Regions from separate parts of the Homo sapiens genome. Here region 1 is linked to region 2. The links come from fine-mapping of genetic effects on gene expression. A gene starts in region 2. The other region holds a variant in brackets. All regions are shown on one strand. Distances are from middle to middle.

Region 1 (10,322 bases), 73 kb after region 2:
GTGGAGGCTGCAGAACAGTAAATATTGCAGAACAGCAAATATTGCTGCCTGATCCTTCCTCTGGAAGCTTCATCCCAGAGGGGCACCTGCCTGTATCAGGTGTGTGTCAGCCCCTACTGGGAGGTGTCTCCCAGTTAGGCTACACGAGGGTCAGAGACTCACTTGAAGAGGCAGTCTGCTCATTCTCAGAGCTCAAATGCTGTGCTGGGAGAACCACTGCTCTCTTCAGAGCTGTCAGACAGGGTGTTTAAGTCTGCAGAAGTTTCTGCTGTCTTTTGTTCAGCTATGCCCTGCCCACAAAGGTGAAATCTATAGAGGCTGTAGGCCTTGCTGAGCTGTGGTGGGCTCTGTCCAGTTCAAGCTTCCTGGCCACTTTGTTTACCTAGTCAAGCCTCAGCAATGGCTGACACCACTCCCTTAGCCAGGCTGCTGCCTCGCAGGTCAATCTCAGACTGCTGCACTAGCAGTGAGCAAGGCTCCATGGGTGTGGGACGTGCCGAGCCAGGCACGGGAGAGAATTTCCTAGTCTGCTGGTTGCTAAGACCATAGGAAAAGTGCAGTATTTGGGCCACGGTGTCCCTTTTTCCAGGTGCAGTCTCTCACGGCTTCCCTTGGCTAGGAAAGGGAAATCCCCCCACCCTTTGCACTTCCCAGGTGAGGTAACGCTCTGCCCTGCTTTGGGTCACCCTCCGTGGGCTGCACCCATTGTCCAACCAGTCCCAATGAGATGAACCAGGTCCCTCAGTTGAAAATGCAGAAATCCCCCATCTTCTGCATCGATCACGCTGAGAGCTGCAGACCAGAGCTGTTCCTATTTGGCCATCTTGGAACAGAACTCCAGCAACACTCTGGTATAAGGTGTCTGGTGACCTCTGTTTGCGGGGGTTCTCACCCAGCTGGGAGGCATGAGATCCGAGACCCACTTAACAAAGTACCCTGGCTGTCCCTTGGTCCAACAGGTGTGCTGTTCTTAGGGGAATCCCACTCATCTGGGCTGCCTGGATTCCTCAGAGCTACCAGGGGGAAAGACTAAGTCAGCTGGTCCATGGAGACCATGACTATCCTTCCCCCTAGGGGCTCAGGCCCAGGGAGACCAGAATTTTGGCCCTAAGCCCCTTGCTGGAGTGGCTGAAGTTTTTGCAGGGAGGCCCCACCCAGTAAGGAGGGATGCATCAGGGTCTGCCCTAAAGAGGCAGTCTGGTCGTGATCTGCCACAGCTGGTGTGCTGTACTATGGGGAGTGCCTTTTGAGTCTCCCAGGCACCAGCCGGGGAAATACAGTGGGCTGGAGCTGTAGTGATGGCTACTGCCCTTTCCTCCCAGTAGTTCAGCATCTTAGGCAGCTAGCAGCTGCAGTGAGGGCTGCTGTCCTTTTCCTGGGGAGCTCAGTTGTCTTAGGCAGCAGGCAGCTGCAGTGATGAAGGCTTCCCCTCCCCCTGGGAGCTCAGTAGTCCTAGGCAGATGCCAACTGAGTAGCTGTTGAGAATCTATGCAGCTCTGCGGTTGGGACCCAAGGCCCTGGTAGCATGGGCTCACAAGTGGGATCTCATGATCCATGGGTTGCACAGATCCATGGAAAAAGCACAGATCCCCAGGCTGGGTAGCATGAACACTCAGCGCCTCCCTTGGCTGGGGAATGGGAGCTCCCCCTGCCCCATGTGGCTCTCAGGTGAGGCGATGCACCACACTGCATTTCCTTACTCTCTGTGAGTCACACCAACTGCCTAGTCAGTCCTGATAGAACCTGAGGGTACCTCGGTTCCCAGTGCAGGATTCACACACTGTCTTCGTTCTTCTTGGTGGGAGCCTTTGATTGCAGCTGCTTCTTGTCAGCCTTCTTGGCCCAGTGCACCCCCCGGCGCCCCCGCTATATAACAGTTTTGGGAAATAATTAGTGGTAATTGTTTAACATGACAATTGAGTGAGGCCTTAATAATAGTTGGGGCATAGAAGAAGCTGACCAAAATCTCTTAAAAAGAAAATCTGGGGAATGAGATATTAATAGGGGCTTTTAAAAGTTCTGACATACTCCTGAAAATTTAGAAGGAAATGTGCACGTACAGAACTGTGCACATACCCAGAAAAGACCTGAAAAAGAAATAATCTCTCTCGTCTGGCTGACCTTAAGTTTCTGTGCAAGCAGTGAGAGAAAGCTAAGCCAATACCGTAAATCATCTATTGGATCTTTGAAATAGTGTCCCCAAACACAAAAAGGACCTTTTGGAAAAGGCTGGGAGATACACTTATGCAGCATATTTAAGGAAAACTATATCCATTTATTGAATGACTACTATGCTAACTGAATAGATGTCAGTGGTCACACATAATGAAGAAAATAGATTAATATAATTAGTTGAGGAAAGTAACCAAATGCACAATAGGAAAAACACCACCAGCAACAAAGCCTGGGGAGGAGGCATATACAGTTTCCAGAGTTGTCATATTATATTATTCTAAATATATGGTTTTCAACAAGTTATGAAGCATGTAAAGAAGTAGGAATGTAAGATGAATAGGGCCTGAAGTGAACCCCCAGAAAACTGCAGCAGCCCTACAGAAAAGGAACCTGACAACAACAAAAATGACCCCCGCAAAAATGGCCCCCACAAAATGGCCCCTACAAAAACCCCATGCAAGGGTCAGCAGCCTCAAAGACTGAAACTAGGCAAACTCATGAAGATGAGAAAGAATCAGTGAAAAAATGCTGAAAACCCAAAAGGCCAGAGTGCCTCTTCTCCCCCCAAATGATTGCAACATCTCTCCGTCAAGGGCACAGAACTGGACAAAGGATCAGATGGATGAATTGACAGGAGTAGGCTTCAGAAGATGAGTAATAGAAAACTACACTGAGCTAAAGGAGCATGTTCTAACCCAATGCAAAGAAGCTAAGAACCTTGATAAAAGATTAGAGGAATTGCTAACTAGAATAACCAGTTTAGGGAGGAACAAAAACCACCTGATGGAGCTGAAAAACACAGCACAAGAACTTCATGAAGCATACACAAGTATCAATAGTCAAATCTACCAAGCAGAAGAAAGGATATCAGAGTTTGAAATGCACCTTACTGAAATAAGACATGCAGACGAGAATAGAGAAAAAATGAGTGAAAAGGAATGAACAAAGCCTCCAAGAAATATGGGACTTTATAAAAAGACTGAATCTAAGATTGATTGGAGTACGAGGAGGAGACAGGGAGAATGAAAAGAAGTTGGAAAACACACTTCATGATATCATCATCCAGGAGAATTTCCCCAACTTAGCAAAACAAGCCAACATGAAAATTAAGGAAATACAGAGAACACCATTAAGATACTCCACGAGAAGATCAACCCCAAGACATATAATCATCAGATTCTCCCAGGCTGAAACGAAGGAAAAACTACTAAGGGCAACCAGAGAGAACAGCATGGTCTCCTGCAACGGGAAGCCCATCAGATAAAAACAGACCTCTCAGCAGAAACTCTACAAGCCAGAAGAGAGTGGGAGCCAATATTCAACATTCTTAAAAAAAAGAATTTCCAACCCAGAATTTTAACCCACATGTTAGAACCATGATGCAAAGTGAAATCGTCTTCTGCTACTGTTTCCCATAAAGCTGTGTTATACCTTTTCCCCCTTGGTGCCGTGGAAATCTTGGAGCTATTGAAAAGAAATAAAACCCTCCATGCAGAAGAGGACAACAATAAAAAAAGATAGCATGTTTTGAGTAAGAAATTGTGGAAAGAACAAAAATAAATACCCTCATAGATTCTATAACCACAAGTCAGTCTTCACATAAGTGTATATATGGGCTGTGTGTGTACATGTACTTATGCACATCACAGATACATATTAATATACATATACAAAAGTAAGCAGGAAACTCTTTCCTAGAAGTTCTCAATATGACTCTTCTTTAGCCAAATCTAAGTAATATAACCAAATGCATACCAATAACAGAGAAAGGAGGCTGGATTCATTATGACTGACAATTAACCAATATTTGTTCTTTGGGTTAGGACATTCCTTTCAAGAACATATTGTTCTTCAAGAACTGAGCAAAATAGAACACTTAGCAATGGTTCTTAAAGTGAAGTCCCTGGAAAACCATCATGAGCGTCACATGGGAATTTATTAGAAAAGCAAATTCTCAAGCCCCGTTCCAAATATATTGAATTAGAAACTCTGGATGTGGGAAACACATATTGAGTTTTAACAAGATTTCCAGGTGAATCTGAGGGATACTAAAATTTGAAAACCACTATTTTACCATGTAAGAGCAGATACTGAGTTTTGATTAGTTAACCAACAGTGTGTTTATGTTATACCTAGATGTTTTCTAATTTAAGATAGTACTTTTCAGCCAGGCGCAGTGGCTCATGCCTGTAATCGCAGCATTTTGGGAGGTCGAGGTGGGTGGATCACCTGATGTCAGGGGTTCAAGACCAGCCTGACCAACATGGCGAAACCCCATCTCTACTAAAAATACAAAAATTAGTTAGGCGTGGTAGCAGGTGCCTGTTATCCCAACTATGGGAGGCTGAGGTAGGAGAATTGCTTGATCCTGGGAGGTGGAGGTTGCTGCAGTGAGCTGAGATCGTGCCATTGCACTCCAGCCTGGGCGACAGAGCAAGACTCTGTCTTAAAAAAAAAAAAAAAAAAAGATAGTACTTTTCTTCAGGACTATAATACAATAAAAGTGAAGATAGTCAAAACAAACAAAACCCAAAGCTGTAATAAACCAAGGATGAAAAAAAGATGAGATTATATAGCAGGGCATAAGATTTCAACAAATTTGAGAATATGAAAAAAAGCAGATGTGGCAAATCATTTTGCAAGACACAGGAAGTCACAAAGGGTGTCTAGACAGATATAATAAGGAGATCCAATTTATTTCTACAGTACCCCAGAGAAAAGGAGGGATTGGTGATGCCAAATTAAGGAAAGGTTAAAAATTCTATGATGGGATCAGTGTCCTTATAAGGAGAGGAAGAAGAACCAGAGCTCTTTCTCTCTCTGCCATGTGAGGCCACAGCAAGAAAGGGACTGTCTGCAAGCCAGAGAGGCTTCAACAGATGATGATTTTACTGGTTCCCTGTCCTTGGACTTCTCAAATTCTAGAACTGTGAGAAATAAATGTCTGCTGTTTAAGTCACCCAGACTATGCCATTTTGCTGTTGCAACAGGAGCTAAGACAGATGTTGCTATTGTCTGAATGTTTGTGTCCACTCAAAATTTATATGTTGAAGCCTAATCACCAATGTGACATATTAGGAGGTGGGGCCTTTGTGAGATTAGGTCACGAGAATGGAACTCTCATAAATGGGATTAATACCTTTTAAAAAAAAATGAAAGAAAGAAAAATACAATCTTAGAGAGATCCCTCGTCCCTTCCACTTTGTGAGGACCCGGTGAGAAGATGCCATGTATGTGTTAGAATGTAGGCCCTTCTGCAGACACTGAATCTCCTGGCACCTTGGTGTTGGATTTGTCAGCCTCCAGGACTATGAGAAATAACTTTCTGTTGTTTATAAGCTACCCAGACTATGGTATTTTCTTTTAGTTGCCCTAATGAACTACATGAAAAGAAGTCTAAATGTAAATAGATACTTTCTCAATTTTAATACCTCTTTGAATAATTGATAGATTAATCAAACCAAATATTAGCTAAAGCAACAGCAAAACTAACTGACACAGCCAATTAGAATGAAAATACATGACTTGTACACAACTGCAGAATACACCTATTTCTCGTACAAAATATTTATAAAAATTGGCTGTGAACCAGAAGGTCATAATGTAAGTCTTAAAAATTTCAAATGACTGTAACCATACACAGCATGTGCTTGCACTACAATAAAATTACAAATAATAAAAAGACAACTAGACATTCCCAACTGCTTGGAAATAAGGAATAGACGTAAAGGAAGAAATCATAAAAATGTCCTGGGTACAAGAGGCAGTTTAAAATAAGATTCAAAGACCAGAAGTCAAAATGAAAAAATAAAAGTAAAAATCACTGAAAATAAAAATTTCTGTGTGGTGAAAGCAACCTTAAATAAGTTTCAAGCCAGAGACACAGTAGGCAAAAGAATTGTATCTTGGCCGGGCATGGTGGCTCACGCCTGCAATCCCAGCACTTTGGGAGGCCAAGGTGGGTGGATCTGAGGTGAGGAGTTTGAGACCAGCCTGGCCAACATGGGGAAACCCCATCTCTACTAAAAATACAAAAATTAGCAGGGCATAGTGGCATATGCCTGTAATCCCAGCTACTTGGGAGGCTGAGGCAAGAGAATTTCTTTAACCCGGAGGGTGGAGTGTGCAGTGAG[C/G]TGAGATCGTGCCACTGCACTCCAGTCGGGGCAACAGAGTGAAACTCTGTCTCAGAAAAAAAAAAAAAAAAGAATTGTATCTTATTTAACATACCCACAATATATAAAGACCACTAACAAATCAGCAAGAGGGAAAAAAATCCCAATCCAACAACAATAACAAAATGAGCATTATATTTCAGACAAATCACAGAATAAAACTGTAAAATAATTAGTAATCATATGAAAAAGTCCTCAATCTCATTAACAATCAGAATCAACAAACAAAAAATAAGATAATGCTTGCCATTCACAGTAGGAAACATTTAGAATTGGTATTCTAGAATCGAAGAGGTGTGGAAAAATTAGAAATCCCATGACTTATTGGTAAAAGAATAAAATGTTTTTTTTATTGTATACAGAAAGATATGTGCAAAGATGATGACTACAGCACAATTTATAATTGATAAAACTTGGAAACAGTACCTAGATTATTAGATCAATGACACAGTTCTGTATTAGAGGGATAGAGATTTCCAAGATGCACTGTTAGGTGAAAAACACATCAGAGAAGAGCTGTATAAAATAATCCTCTTTATGTAAAAAAAAAACAAAAAAACAAAAACACTGTGTAGCTGTGTATATACTTATTTGTATGTATATAACATTTACTGAGCGCTTACTCTATGGCAAACATCATTCTAAATTCTTTATATATTTTAACTTCCTTAATCATCATAAAAATCCTCTGTGGTAGATACCATTACTACTCTCATTTTACCGATTAGAAAACAGGCAAAGAGATTGTCAAGTAATTTTCACAAGTCACAGGCACAGGAAGTAAAAAAGAAAGAATTCAAACTCAGGTAGCTCGATTTTCCTTCTTCCTTTTTCTATCTTATTTTCTCAATTTCTTTCTCCACCTTCCTCCCTTCCATTCCCTTTTTTCTTCCCTCCCCCCACCTCTCTTAGTGTGTCTTCAAATGTTTGTGTCAACCTTGGTTAGCAGGGTAATCGGGAGAACAGCACCGGGAATGGAGAGGGTGAGGTTTCATTTTTCTCCATATATGGTGTTATTGTTTGGAAGATCATGTGTTTTTGTTTGTTTGTTTGAGACGAGTCTTGCTCTCTCTCCCAGGCTGGAGTGTAGTGGCTGGATCTCGACTCACTGCAACCTCTGCCTTCCGGGTTCAAGCGATTTTTCTCCTGCCTCAGCCTCCCCAGTAGATGGGATTACAGGGGCACACCACCACACCTGGCTCATTTTTGTATTTTTAGTAGAGACGGGGTTTCACCATGTTGTCCAGGCTGGTCTTGAACTCCTGGTCTCAGGTGATCCGCCTGCCTCGGCCTCCCAAAATGCTAGGGTTTCAGGCGTGTAAATAAATTTTTAAAAAATCAGTAGAAACGTCAGTGCAATATGTATTTATTTATTGCATGAGGGTGTGCCAGTTGCAGGCACACCCTGAAAAATCAAAGGCGCGTCCTGAAAAATTAAACATTCTACACGCCTCATCATTTTCACTCTTAACTTAAAAATGCCTTTTGTTGGAAAGAAAAGGGAGAAGGGCAAGGGCTAGAGATAAAATAATCTCGACCGCTCCTCTTTTGTAGTCTAAGCTCCCTCACCTTGAAAAGCTACAGGCTTCTAAGGGATGGAGGTCAAGAGCAGAGTTAAGGAAGTTCCCGGGGTAGGCCACTCCCCGCCTGATGATTTTCCAGTTCCAGCTGGTGTCGACGTCCCAGTTCATCTGTGCCCTTAACCACCGGAGAAACGTTTCCGGAGTCTCTCCAAAGAGCAAAAAAGGGGACGGGGATGGGGAGAGGGAGACGGGACGGGCTGGGCGGCAGCTGCGCGTCGCACACGGCGTGGGGGGGTGGGTGCAGTCGCGCCCCCAGCTCGGCCGCGCTCCAGCAGCAAAGCCGGATCCTCTGAGCCCGCGCAGGGACCAGGGGAGGGAAGCCTTGTTGTACCCTTGGGGTCCAGAAACCTAAACTAGGGGCTGCTGCAGGTGTAGACTCTGAGGCTGGTCCAGGCCCCTTTTCCGCCGACTTCCGGGAGGGCTGTGCAACAGGTGTGCCTGGCAGTCACGGGGCAGACGGGAGGAAGCCACGCTAGGACCTCGGCTCGCTCAGGGCTGTGCGGGAGCAGCTGCAGCCACGGGTAAGGGGGCGGCTTTCTCAGTCGCCTCCCTATGGGACTGGGGTGTGCCTGGCTAGTGGGGACGATGCTCCGCCCCATAATTGTGTTTGCGTCAGAGGGCGGGGCAAGGGCCCAATGGGCCGCGGGAAGCGACACCTGAAGTGGAACGGAAACTCGGCAAGGGGCCCCAGGCGGCCCAGCTGTACCCTGGCTCACACCAGAACCGTTCGAATGACAAGGGGTGTCCTGCCTGAAAACGCCTTGCGGGGCTCAGCTTCCCCTTAGCTACACTGCTTTACAGGTAGAGAGCGGCCCTGAATCCTGGGCAGAGTCTGGGCTCAGGAGCATGTGCCAGCATAGTGGGGCTATTAGAAGGGACGGTTAATACAGCCTGCAAGCTGTCATTTATCAGTAAGTATTCAATGAAGTCCGCCAGGAGCCCACGTCTATGCTAGGCCCTCTACAATACCAGCTTAGGAAAGATAGTGGCGGTATGTAGCGCGGTTCCTAAGACCATTAGCTCCAGTCAGGCTCCCCGACTTTAAATTCGGCCTCTACTGCTTCACATCTGTGGACTGTCAGCCACTTTCTTCATATATGTTCTTTCCATTGCCTCATTTCTGAAATTGTGTAAGTATTAAATGAGCTACAGAGTATTACACTGAAATTTGGCACATTGGGAGAATGTGAGATTTTTTGTTTGTTTTTCAACGAAATAGGAACATAAATGCAACGGACATGAATCATGAATAATTTCAATTCAGCTAGTTACTGAGCTGTACAGCATTAAGTAAACATTTTATCTTTATGGGCTTAGTTTTCTCATTTATAAAGAAGAAAGGAAAACTCCTATTTGTGAGGGAGGTCTGGGTTGTTAGGAAAGGTTTTTGAGCAGTAATTAATGTGTGTTAATGTAAAGTTCTTAGAGCAGTGCCTGGCACTACAGAAAGTACTCAGTGAAAGTTAGCGTTTATTATTTTAAATATTTGACAAAGTCCCTGCCTCTCCAAGCTGACTCTCTGGTTCCCATGTGGTTTCATTCATTCACTGTTATTTCTGGAAGTCTTGGCATGGCCACTTGCCAGTTGCAGGAACAGGCAGTCGTTGTTTCTTCCCGCTTATGACACTGAGATACATGGTTAGTACCAGTGACACTTAGAAGTGTCAGGCGGTTTGGGGGCTCCTTTCTTTCTTGAACTTTTCCTAAGAGCAAACCTTTCTCTTATTGCCACCCTGATGTTTACAATAGAAGGGTTTTGAGCAATGAACAAGCACAAGGAAATGAAAAACACATACAAAGGAAAATGAGTGGATTGCTGCAGTTGGATAGACAAGTGTAAAATACCTGGGTCTCACTGTACATGAAGCAGCCTTCAGATCTGTAAGGGAACTATTCTTACTGACTGAAAAGAGCAAAATAATACTGTACACTCATTGTTGAATTAACAAACACAGATTAAGTGGCTTGTCTTGGATAAGACAAACCAAGCTCTGGCCTTTGAGGTCTTAAAGTGCAGGTAGAGCGACTTTAAACATTTGTGAACTGGCCCTTGTGCACCTTTCCATCCTCATCTCTAAGGGTCTGTCCATCTTTGGCTCTGTAATTTCATAAATTTTCATTTCCCGAATAAGCCCAGTTTCCTGCAGCTTAGGACTTCTACTAGTGAGCTTCCCTCTGTCTATAATGCCCTACCACGCCCCTCATACATCCCTATGGCCTGGCTGATTCTAGACTTTTTTCAACTCTCCGCTCTGACTTTCCTGACAATGCCACCACTACTCCAACTAAATCAATGACTCCATATCCTTTTTATTGTACCATTATTTGTATTCATAGTGCTTAATGTATTTGTATATGTACAAATACATTTGTATTGTTATATATGTGTTAT
Region 2 (10,278 bases):
AGAGTTTATAACCACAAGCCAGCTTTCACGTAATGAGTCATCTGAAGCTATGTGAGTCCTGCATGAGTGTAGCAGGTCATCAGTGCCTCACGTGCCCTTGGAAAGATATGTAGAACATTTTGTATCCACCATCCTTAAGACTTGTTCTCCCATATTCTGTGATCTGAAGATAACTGTCATAATTCCATATGTCACTGCCTTATATAAGAGAGAAAGAGGCATATTATACACTTGCATGTGTATTTATGTGTGTATGCGTGCATATATATATATATATATACACACACACACACACATACACAAAAGCCCTCTTCTTGAGGGCTTCTAGGAAAGGGTTTACTGCTTACATTTGCATATGCCCTCAATTATACAAGTCAGTCAAAGGAGAATAGAATCACTATGATTGTCTATTACTCAAAATTCATCCTTTGTGCTATGACCCTCCTCTTATGATGCACTGTTACACAATACCTGAAAAAAATAGAGTTCTTTCAGCAAATGCTTCTTAAAATGTGGTCTATTGAAAAGAATCATCAGCACCCTACGGAAAATTGTTAGAAAAGCAAATTCTCAAAGCACATCCCAGACTTACTGAATCAGAAAGACTAAAGGCGGGACTCTGCAAATTTAGTTCTAATTAGATTTCCAAGTGATACTTATGCATGTTAAAATATGGGAAGCACTATTTTACTCTGTCAAAGCAAATACTGAGTTTTATTTAGGCAAACAATAATTTATATGGTATCTGGATGTTTTCTAATTAAAGATGGTACCTTTCATCAGAGACTATAATAAAATGAAAATGAAGACAATTAAAACAAAATAAAGAACCCAAAAGCTGTAAACACCACACAGACTATGAAAAGATGAGAATTTACTGTAGCAAGTGAGATTTCAACAAATTTGAGAAAATGGAAGGGAGAGGCAAAAGTGAAACTGATTTTGCAAGACTCAGAAAGTCACAACCTAAAGTGTGTAAAAAGGAAAATAAGATTCAGGAGATCCACCTTAACTCCACAGAAATCCAAAGAGGCTGAGGACTTAGTGGTGTCAAATAAAAAGACAAAGTTATAAATTAGCAAGTAAATTGAGGATGCTTGAAGGTCTATTCACAAGCCAATTCACCCAGCCTAACTTACTACCTCCACAAAGAGAATGTGGTACCACCCTAAGCAAAGGATAGATTTCTTCTGTGTAAAATTGGCAGAAAAGTTTTGGGATTCAAAATACACTATTCATCAGGGAAGGAGAGGTTGAAAAATATAGAAAATGAAAGCTACTGGATTTCTACTGTCTCCTGCCCTTTTGCAGCAGAAGTCCATTAGTCAGGAAGGTAAACCCAAAGCAAATGCTTACCCTGTGGCAGGCACCACCCTAAACCTTTTATGTATTTTAACTTTCTGAAGTTTCAAAAAATGTTATGAAGTAGATACTATTACTACCCTCATTTATAGATTTCAAAAAGAGGCACGGAGGCTGTCAGGTAACTTTCATGAGGTCACAGGGATGGTAAGTTGAAGAGAAAGAGATCAAACCTAGGTGGTTCAGTTTTCCCTCTTCCTTTTTCCACCATGTTTTCTCAATTTCTTTTTCCACCTTCCTGTTCTCTCCTCTCACTTCTCTTAGTAAATCTTCAAACATGTGTTAACCTTGGTTAGCAAGATAATGGGAATAAAACTAGGGAGTGAAAAGGACAAGATTTCACTTCTTTTCTGCATTTGCAGCTTTATTGTTTGGAAAAAAATCACATTACTTTTGTAAATAACAAATTTTAAAGGAAAATAATTATTCCTTCAGTTCAATAAATATTTATTTATTACATGTCTCTATGCCAGCTGCAGGGCTGGAAAAATAAACATTCTAAACAAATCTGGTTGGTTTGATTTCAAAACATATTTAAAATATCATTTGGTATAGTCCCATTTATTTATTTTTGTTCTTGTAGCCTGAGCTTTTGGTGTGATAGTCAAGAAATCTTTGGCAAGGTAAATGTCAAGGAGCTTTTCTCTTATATTTTCTTCCAGGAGTTTAACGGTTTGAGGTCTTACATGTAGGTCTTTTATCCATTTTGTTTTTGATTTGTTTGTGTGGTGTAAGACAACAGTTCAATTTCATTCTTTTGTATGTGAAAATCCAGTCTTCCCAGCACCATTTATTCAAGAGACCATCCTTTCCTCATTGTGTTCTCTTGGGGCCCTTGTGAAAAATTAGTTGACCGTGTATGTTTGGATTTATTTCTGAGCTATTTTGTTCCATTGGTCTACATATCTGTTTTTATGTCAGTGCCATTCTGTTTTATATAAATTTGTAATATAATTTTTAATTAGGAAGTGTTATTTCTCCAGCTTCAATTTTTTTCTCAGAATTGCTTTGGCTATTTGAGGTCTTTTGTGGTTTCATACAAATTTGCATTGAATCTATATATTACTTTGGGTAGTATGAACATTTTAACAATATTATTTCTACATCAAACCAAAAACTTCTGCATGGCAAAGGAAACAATCAACGAAATGAAATGGCAACCTATAGATTGGAAAAATATATATCTGCAAATCATGTTCTCAGAAAAGGGTTGAGTTTCCAAGATTTATAAAGAACTTATACAACTCAATAGCAAGAAAACATATAACCCAATTTAAAAATGGGAAATGGACTTGAATAGACACTTCTTCAAAAATGACATAAAAATAGCCAACAGGTATATGAAAATGTGCCCAGCATCACTATTCATCAGAAAAATGCAAATCAAAATCACTATGAGATACTACGTCATACCTGTTAGGATTGGTATTATCAAAAAGACAAGAGATAACAAGTGTCGGCAAGGGTGTAGAGAAAAGAGAATCCTTGTACACTGTAGGTGGGAATGTAGGCTGGTGCAGCCGTTATGGAAAACAGTACGGAGGTTCCTACAGAAATTAAAAGTAGAACTACCATATGACCCAGAAATCCCTCTTCTGGGTATATACCAAAAGCAAATGAAATCACCGTCTCCTGAAGATAGCCGCACTCCCATGTTCATTGCAGCATTATTCAGAATAGCCAAGATAATAGAAATAATCTAGGTGTCCATCAATAGACAACTGTATAAATAAAGATACATATATTCCATGTTGTGTGTATACACACACACAGATACACACAAAATAGAATATTACTCAGCCTTATAAAAGAAGGAAATTCTGCCAGGTGCTATCACATGGATGGACCTGGAAGGCATTATGCTAAATGAAATAAGCCAGACACAGAAAGAAAAATTTTGCACAATCTCACTTATATGAAATTAAGAAAAGGTCAAATATATACAATAGTGGTTTATAGCAGGGGTCCCCAAGCCCCAGGCCACGGACCTGCACATGTGAGGGATCTAGGTGCATATTTCTTAGGAGAATCTAATGCCTGATTATCTGAGGTGGAGCTCAGGCAGTGATGCTAGCATCGGGCAGCAGCGGCAAATACAGATTAACATTAGCAGAGAGTTTTGACTGCACAGAGACCATAATAAATACATTGATTGCAGACTCATATCAAAACCCTATCAGTGAGGGGCAAATGACAAGTGACAATTAAGCTGTGTCTGGAGGCAGGCTTTATAGTGGAAAATTGATGTACTTCAATTGTACAGTTGCATCTGGTGGCAGGCTTTAAGTCAGAATCCAACACTTATTTTAGTCTGTGCATGGCCCACCCATTATTTTACCACTTCCATCTGCACCTCTTTTCCACACTGTGCACTTGTCTTAGTCACAGTTTTGCTAAGCCCACAAGCTAACCCTTGTGAAAAACAAGGGTTTTTGTTAAAAAAAAGTTTTTGTTAAAAACATCAAAGTGAGTGAAAAACAAACATCACTGGACAGCTTCTTTGAAAATGGGGAAAAACCCAAAGGTGAGATAACAGAAGACTCTAAGACTGCTAACAAAAAGAAAGCTGCACTTAAAGGAAAATGCCAAGAGTCCTACTTAAATTACAGGTTCATTGCAACAGGTGGTTCACATTCTCCAATCCTGCTTTGTATAATATGTGGTGACCAACTGCCCAATGAAGCCATGAAACCTGCAAAACTACTTTGCCACATGGAGACCAAGCACTCTGCATTAAAAGACAAGCCTTTGGAGTTTTTTGTTTTGTTTTGTTTAAAAAAAAAACAGAAACCATGAAACCATGAACACAAAGAACACATAGAAGCAATTATTGAAGGCCACCATGTCATCAAATGTGTCTGCACTGAGAGCATCATTCATAGTGGCTAACTGCATTGCTAAAGCTAAGAAGCCCTTTACTATTGGTGAAGAATTGATCCTGCCTGCTGCTAAGGACATTTGTTGGGAACTTTTAGGAGAGGCTGCAGTTCAAAAAATAGCACATATTCCTCTTCTGGCTAGCACCATAACTAGATGAATTGATGAAATAGCAGAGAATATCGAGGTACAATTGTTAGAGAGGATTAATGAGTCACCATTAATCCTCTCTAGCAATTGGTATGCAATCCAGGTTGATGAGTCTACTGATATTGACAACAAAGCAACAATGCTTTTTTGTGTGTGATATATTTTTCAGGAAGATGTGCACAAGGATATATTATGTGAATTTTTGTTGCCAATCAAAACCACAGCTGAAGAACTATTTGTCTTTGAATGATTACATATCAAGAAAACTGAATTGGTTATTTTGTGTAGGTATATGCATGGAAGGAGTGGCTGCCATGACTGGATGGCTTTCTGGTTTCACTACTCTGGTCAAAGAGACCAGAATGTGAGTCTATGCACTGTGTCATCCACAGAAAAATGCTGGCTAGCTGAAAAATGTTACCTGAACTTAACAATGTTTTGCAGGATGTGACAAAAATAATCAACCACATTAAAGTACATTTTCTTAACTCACATCTGTTTGTGCAGCTCTGTGAGGAGATGGACACTGGGCATGCATGTCTTCTCTTATACACAGAAATGAGATGGCTTTCTAAAAGTAGATCACTGGCTGAAATTTTTGAATTATGAGAGCTGCTCCAGAGATTTATTTTAGAAAATCAGTCACCATTGGCGGCACATTTCAGTGACACAGAAAGGGTTGCAAAACTTGCTTACTTGTGTGATGTATTCAACTCGATCTATGAACTCAACTTGTCGCTTCAGGAGAGAAGGACAACTGTGTTCAAGGAAGCAGATAAATTGGTTGCATTGAAAGCCAAACTGGAATTATGGGGGCAACGAATGAACATTGAGATTTTTGACATGTTTCAAACATTAGCAGAGATTTTGAAGAAGACTGAGCCAGCAGCTTCTTTCTCTCAGCTGATGCATGATCACCTATCTTAGCTTTCAAAAGAGTTCGAGCATTACTACCCAACCACAAAAGAACCCTGAACTGGGAATGAATGTATCCATGACCCATTTGTGAGTAAGTCAGGTGAATCGATTTTGTCCGTACTAGAAGAGGATCAATTGCTTGAGATCACAAATGATGGTGGCCTTAAAAGTATGTTTGAGACAGCTTCAAATCCCATGTTCTGGATTAAACTCAAGGTGGGATATCCTGAGATTGCCACAAAAGCACTGAAGAGTCTGCTTCCATTTCCAACATGCTATCTTTGTGAAGCAGGATTTTCTGCAGTGACAGCAACCAAAACAAGATTACGGAGTAGACTGGACATAAGCAACACACTTCTGGTGTCACTGTCTCCCACCGTTCCCAGATGGGACCTTCTAATTGCAGGAAAACAAGGTCAGGGCTCCCACTGATTCCACATTATGGTGAGTTGTATAATTATTTTATTATATATTACAATGTAATAATAATAGAAGTAAAGTGCGCAATACACGTAATGTGCTTGAATCATCCTGAAACCGTCTGCCACCCGGCCCTGGTCCATGGAAAAATCCTCTTCCGTGAAACTGGTCCCTGGTGCCAAAAAGGTTGGGGACCACTGGTTTATCCAGGGTCATCCAGGTTGGAGTGGGGTCAGGAGAAATGGGGAAATTTAGGTAAAAGTATACAAAGTTACAAACACGTAGGATGAACAAATGGGAAGACCTAATGTACAACATGAGGGCTATAGTTAATGATAGTGGTATTCAGGATTTATGCTAAATAAGTAGATTATAGCTGCTCTTGCCCCAAGGGGGGAAATGTGTAATTATAGGAGTTGATGGATATGTCATACAAATAACTTAAATACACAGAATAAAAACTATTTTAGTTTAAAAAGGAACAATATTTATAAAAAAATAAAGTGAGCTCGAAAACATTCAAATAACTGCTTAAAAATTAAAAAGTAATATCACATAATTTAATAGAAGGAAAGAAAGAGCAAGACAGCAAGAAAGAAAAGGCACCATAAAGAAAAACAATTTTGGCCCCTCCTCATTTGTAGTCTTAAGCTGCCTCTACTCCCTCGCCTTGAAAAGCCACGGGCTTCCGAGGGATGGAGGTCAAAGCCAGAGTAAAGAAAGTTCCCGGGGGAGGCCACTCCCCAGCTGATGACTTTCCAGTTCCAGTTAGTGTCGGAGTCCCAGTTCCTCTCCTTAACCACCGGACAAACGTCTCTGGAGTCTCTCCAATGAGCAAGAAAGCAAGTCGGGGGTAGGGGAGGGGCCTCACACCAGGGGGTGGGCGCAGTCCCTCCTCCAGCTCCTTCACCCTCCAGTAGTCTCGTGGGTCCCCGAGCGCCAGCGCGGGAACCGGGAAAAGGAAACCGTGTTGTGTACGTAAGATTCAGGAAACGAAACCAGGAGCCGCGGGTGTTGGCGCAAAGGTTACTCCCAGACCCTTTTCCGGCTGACTTCTGAGAAGGTTGCGCAGCAGCTGTGCCCGGCAGTCTAGAGGCGCAGAAGAGGAAGCCATCGCCTGGCCCCGGCTCTCTGGACCTTGTCTCGCTCGGGAGCGGAAACAGCGGCAGCCAGAGGTGCGCGGGCGGCTTTCTCTGCCGCCTCCTGGGGACTTGGGCGCGGGAACTGCGCGGAGCCTGCGCTGGGGCCAGGGCCGGGGTCAGGTGTGGAGGGCAACTTGTGGGGAACCGGCGCGAGGGCCCGCAGGTTGTGTTTGCTGCTCTGGGGGTGGAGGATGTGGGGTGAAGGTTGGGGCCAGAAATGCAAGAGGCCTCTGAAAGGGACCCTGGAAGTGGAGCAGGTACACGGCAAGGGGCCCCAGGCGGCCCAGCGGCACCCGGGCTCACCCCAGAACCATTCGAATGACAAGGGGTGCCCTGCCTGAAAACGCCTTGCGGGGCTCAGCTTCCCCTTAGCTACACTGCTTTACAGGTAGAGAGCGGCCCTGAATCCTGGGTAGAGTCTGGGCTCAGGAGCATGTGCCAGCGTAGTGGGGCTATTAGAAGGAATGGTTAATACAGCCTGCAAGCTGTCATTTATCAGTAAGTATTCAATGAAGTCCGCCGGAGCCCACATCTATGCTAGGCCCTCTACAATACCAGCTTAGGAAAGATAGTGGCGGTATCTAGCACGGTTCCTAAGACCATTAGCTCCAGTCAGGCTCCCCGACTTTAAATTCGGCCTCTACTGCTTCACGTCTGTGGACTGTCAGCCACTTTCTTCTTATATATGTTCTTTCCATTGCCTCATCTCTGAAATTGTGTAACTATTAAATGAGCTACAGAGTATTAATGTAAAATTCTTAGAGCAGTGCCTGGCGCTACAGAAAGTACTCAGTGAAAGTTAGCTCTTATTATTTTAAATATTTGACAAAGTTCCTGCTTCTCCAAGCTGATTCTCTGGTTCCCAGGTGGTTTCATTCATGCACTGTTATTCCTGGAAGTCTTGGCATGGCCACTTCCCAGTTCCAGGAACAGGCAGTCGTTGTTTTTTCTGGCTTATCACATTGAGATACATGGTTACTACAAGTGACACTTAAACGTGTCAGACAGTTTGGGGGCTCCCTTCTTGAACTTTTTCTAAGAGCAAACCTTTGTCTTAATGCCACCCTGTTTACAACAATAGTAGGGCTTTGAACAATGAGAAAATGCGGGGAAATGAAAAAGACATATAAAGGGAAAGAGTGGATTTATGCAATTGGATAGAAAAGTGGCATGTAAAATAGCTGGTTTATAGATCAAACTGCCTTTAGATCTGTAAAGGAGCTTAGAGTACATACAGGTGGAGAGACATCAGATGTGTGTGAGCAGACCCTTATGTACTTCTCCATCTTCATCTCTAAGAATGTCTCCCTCTTTTGCTCTGTAACCTCACTCGTCTTCCTTTACTTGAATGAGGGACGTTCCTCCAGCTCAGGAATTCTACCTATGGAGTTCCCTCTATCTATGATGCCCTCCAACACCCCACCCACCATACCTCCATAGACTAGTTGATTTGAGACTTCCTTCATCTCCTAGTCTGACTTTTCTTAAACCCCCTACCACCATCTAAGTTAGTGCCCCATAACCCTTTCTTATAGCAACATTAATTTTATTTATAGCACTTAGAGTATTTTTAATAATATATTTAATTCTTAATTGTCTGTCTCCCCTAGTGTCTAGGTATTGTGCTCTAGTGCCTGGTATAGTGCCTTGCATGCTCTATGCCTTCAATTAATTCCTTTAAAACCACACAAGCTTTATATTTAGTGAATATTTATATAGGAAGAATTTCTATGTGTATATATGTGTATCTGTGTATATACACACTGTATTGCACTGCCCTGAATAGTGCTAAATTAAAAAACCAAAACACTTTTTAATCAGAACTTAATAGTTGCACTCTTCAATTTTCCATATGTTCTTTTAAGAAGTGATTAGAAAAAAATGATGTCTCCATATGTTGTCTGCTGCTGTAAAAGAATACCTGAGACTTGGTAATTTATAAAGGACAGAAATTTATTTCTTACAGTTCTGGAGGCTAGGAAGTCCAACATAATCATGTGTTGCTTAAATACAGGAATACATTCTGAGAAATGCATCATGAGGCAATTTTGTGGTTGTGAGAACGTCATAGAATTTACTTACACAATCCTGGATACTATAGCCAGCCTACTATTTAGGCTGGGGTGGTGGGGTTGGGGGTGTTGAGGAGAGTCAGATTGAGAGCTGAGGGAAGTCTCAAATCAACTAGTCTATAGACGTGTGGGTGAGTGGGTTGGTGGAGGGCATTATAGACAGAGGGAACCTCACAGGTAGAAGTCCTGGGCTGGAGGGAACTTGGCTCATTCAAGAAAAGGAATGACCAGTGAGGTGGCAGATAGCCTACTAGACCTAGACTGTGTGGAATAAGGTGTTGCTCCTAGGCTAGAAACCTGTATAGCATGTACTACTGTAATGAATACTGTATGCAAGTATAATACAATGTCAAGTATTTATGTATCTAAACATAGAAAGGGTACAGTAAAAATAATCTTATGGGACCACCATCATATATGTGATCTGTTGTTGTGGTGCATGACTGTATGGAGGCACCAGCATCTTGTGAGGGTCTTCTTACTGCATCATCCCATGGTGGAAAGTGGAAGGGCAAGACAGCAAGAGAGAGTGGAACTTGATTTCCTTACAAGCCTACTCTGGCAATAACAAACCCACTCCCAAGATAACGACATTAATCTATTCATGAAGGTAGAGTGCTTATAAACTAATCATATTTTATTAGGCTCCACCTCCCAACACTGTTGCATTGGAAATTAAGTTTCCAACACATGAACTTAGCTCACACATTCTAACCATAGCACCTGGCCTAGTTAAAGCTAAGTGGCACAAGAGTAAATTGAAATTCAAGCCTTTTCTGTCTTACATAAGAAAGATAACCTTAAAAGAGTCTTTTAACAAATTTCACTGAAGGATGTCAGTCTTCCTTTTTTCAGTGAATTAGAGACATCGGTGCAAAGAATATGAATTATTAATCATCTTAATTCAGCTAGTTAGCAAGCTGTATCACATTTATTAAAATCACTTTTATTTCTATGGGTTTAGTTTCACCATTTATTAGGAGGAAAGGAAGCAAATTTGTGAGGGAGCTCTGGGTTGTCAGGAAAGGCTTTTCAGAGTAGTAAAGCAATCAAATGAGAATAACTGATTCAGTATTTGTTTCCTTTGTCTCTTTGGTTTACTTTTTAGTTTTGTAGAACACTTGATCACTACCATCTCACTTGGTCCTAGTTGATGTATCATCTACATTTTTATTCAAGGTTTAATATAAAATGCTATAAAAGGCTATCCTAAACTGGTTTTAAGCATATTTGTTTTGTTTGTTCAGCATAAAATACACAAGAGGATTTTTATGGAATGGCTCCTTGTTACAAGGTACTTTGCATTTATAATCAGCCACAGTCACCTCAGTTTCATC

Evidence for each region.
Region 1: its variant is fine-mapped to the expression of PLSCR1 in tibial artery (GTEx, PIP 0.99).

The regions. Positions count from the first base shown.
Region 1 is chr3:146,467,624-146,477,945 of GRCh38, reverse strand. It overlaps PLSCR2 (phospholipid scramblase 2), which reads left to right and starts at 8,385. Exons shown (of 8, transcript NM_001395437.1): 1 at 8,385-8,451. RefSeq lists an enhancer at 8,327-8,396. The variant C/G (reference allele first, on the strand shown) is at 6,309.
Region 2 is chr3:146,541,091-146,551,368 of GRCh38, reverse strand. PLSCR1 (phospholipid scramblase 1) reads left to right here and starts at 6,762. Exons shown (of 9, transcript NM_021105.3): 1 at 6,762-6,902. RefSeq lists an enhancer at 6,433-6,912.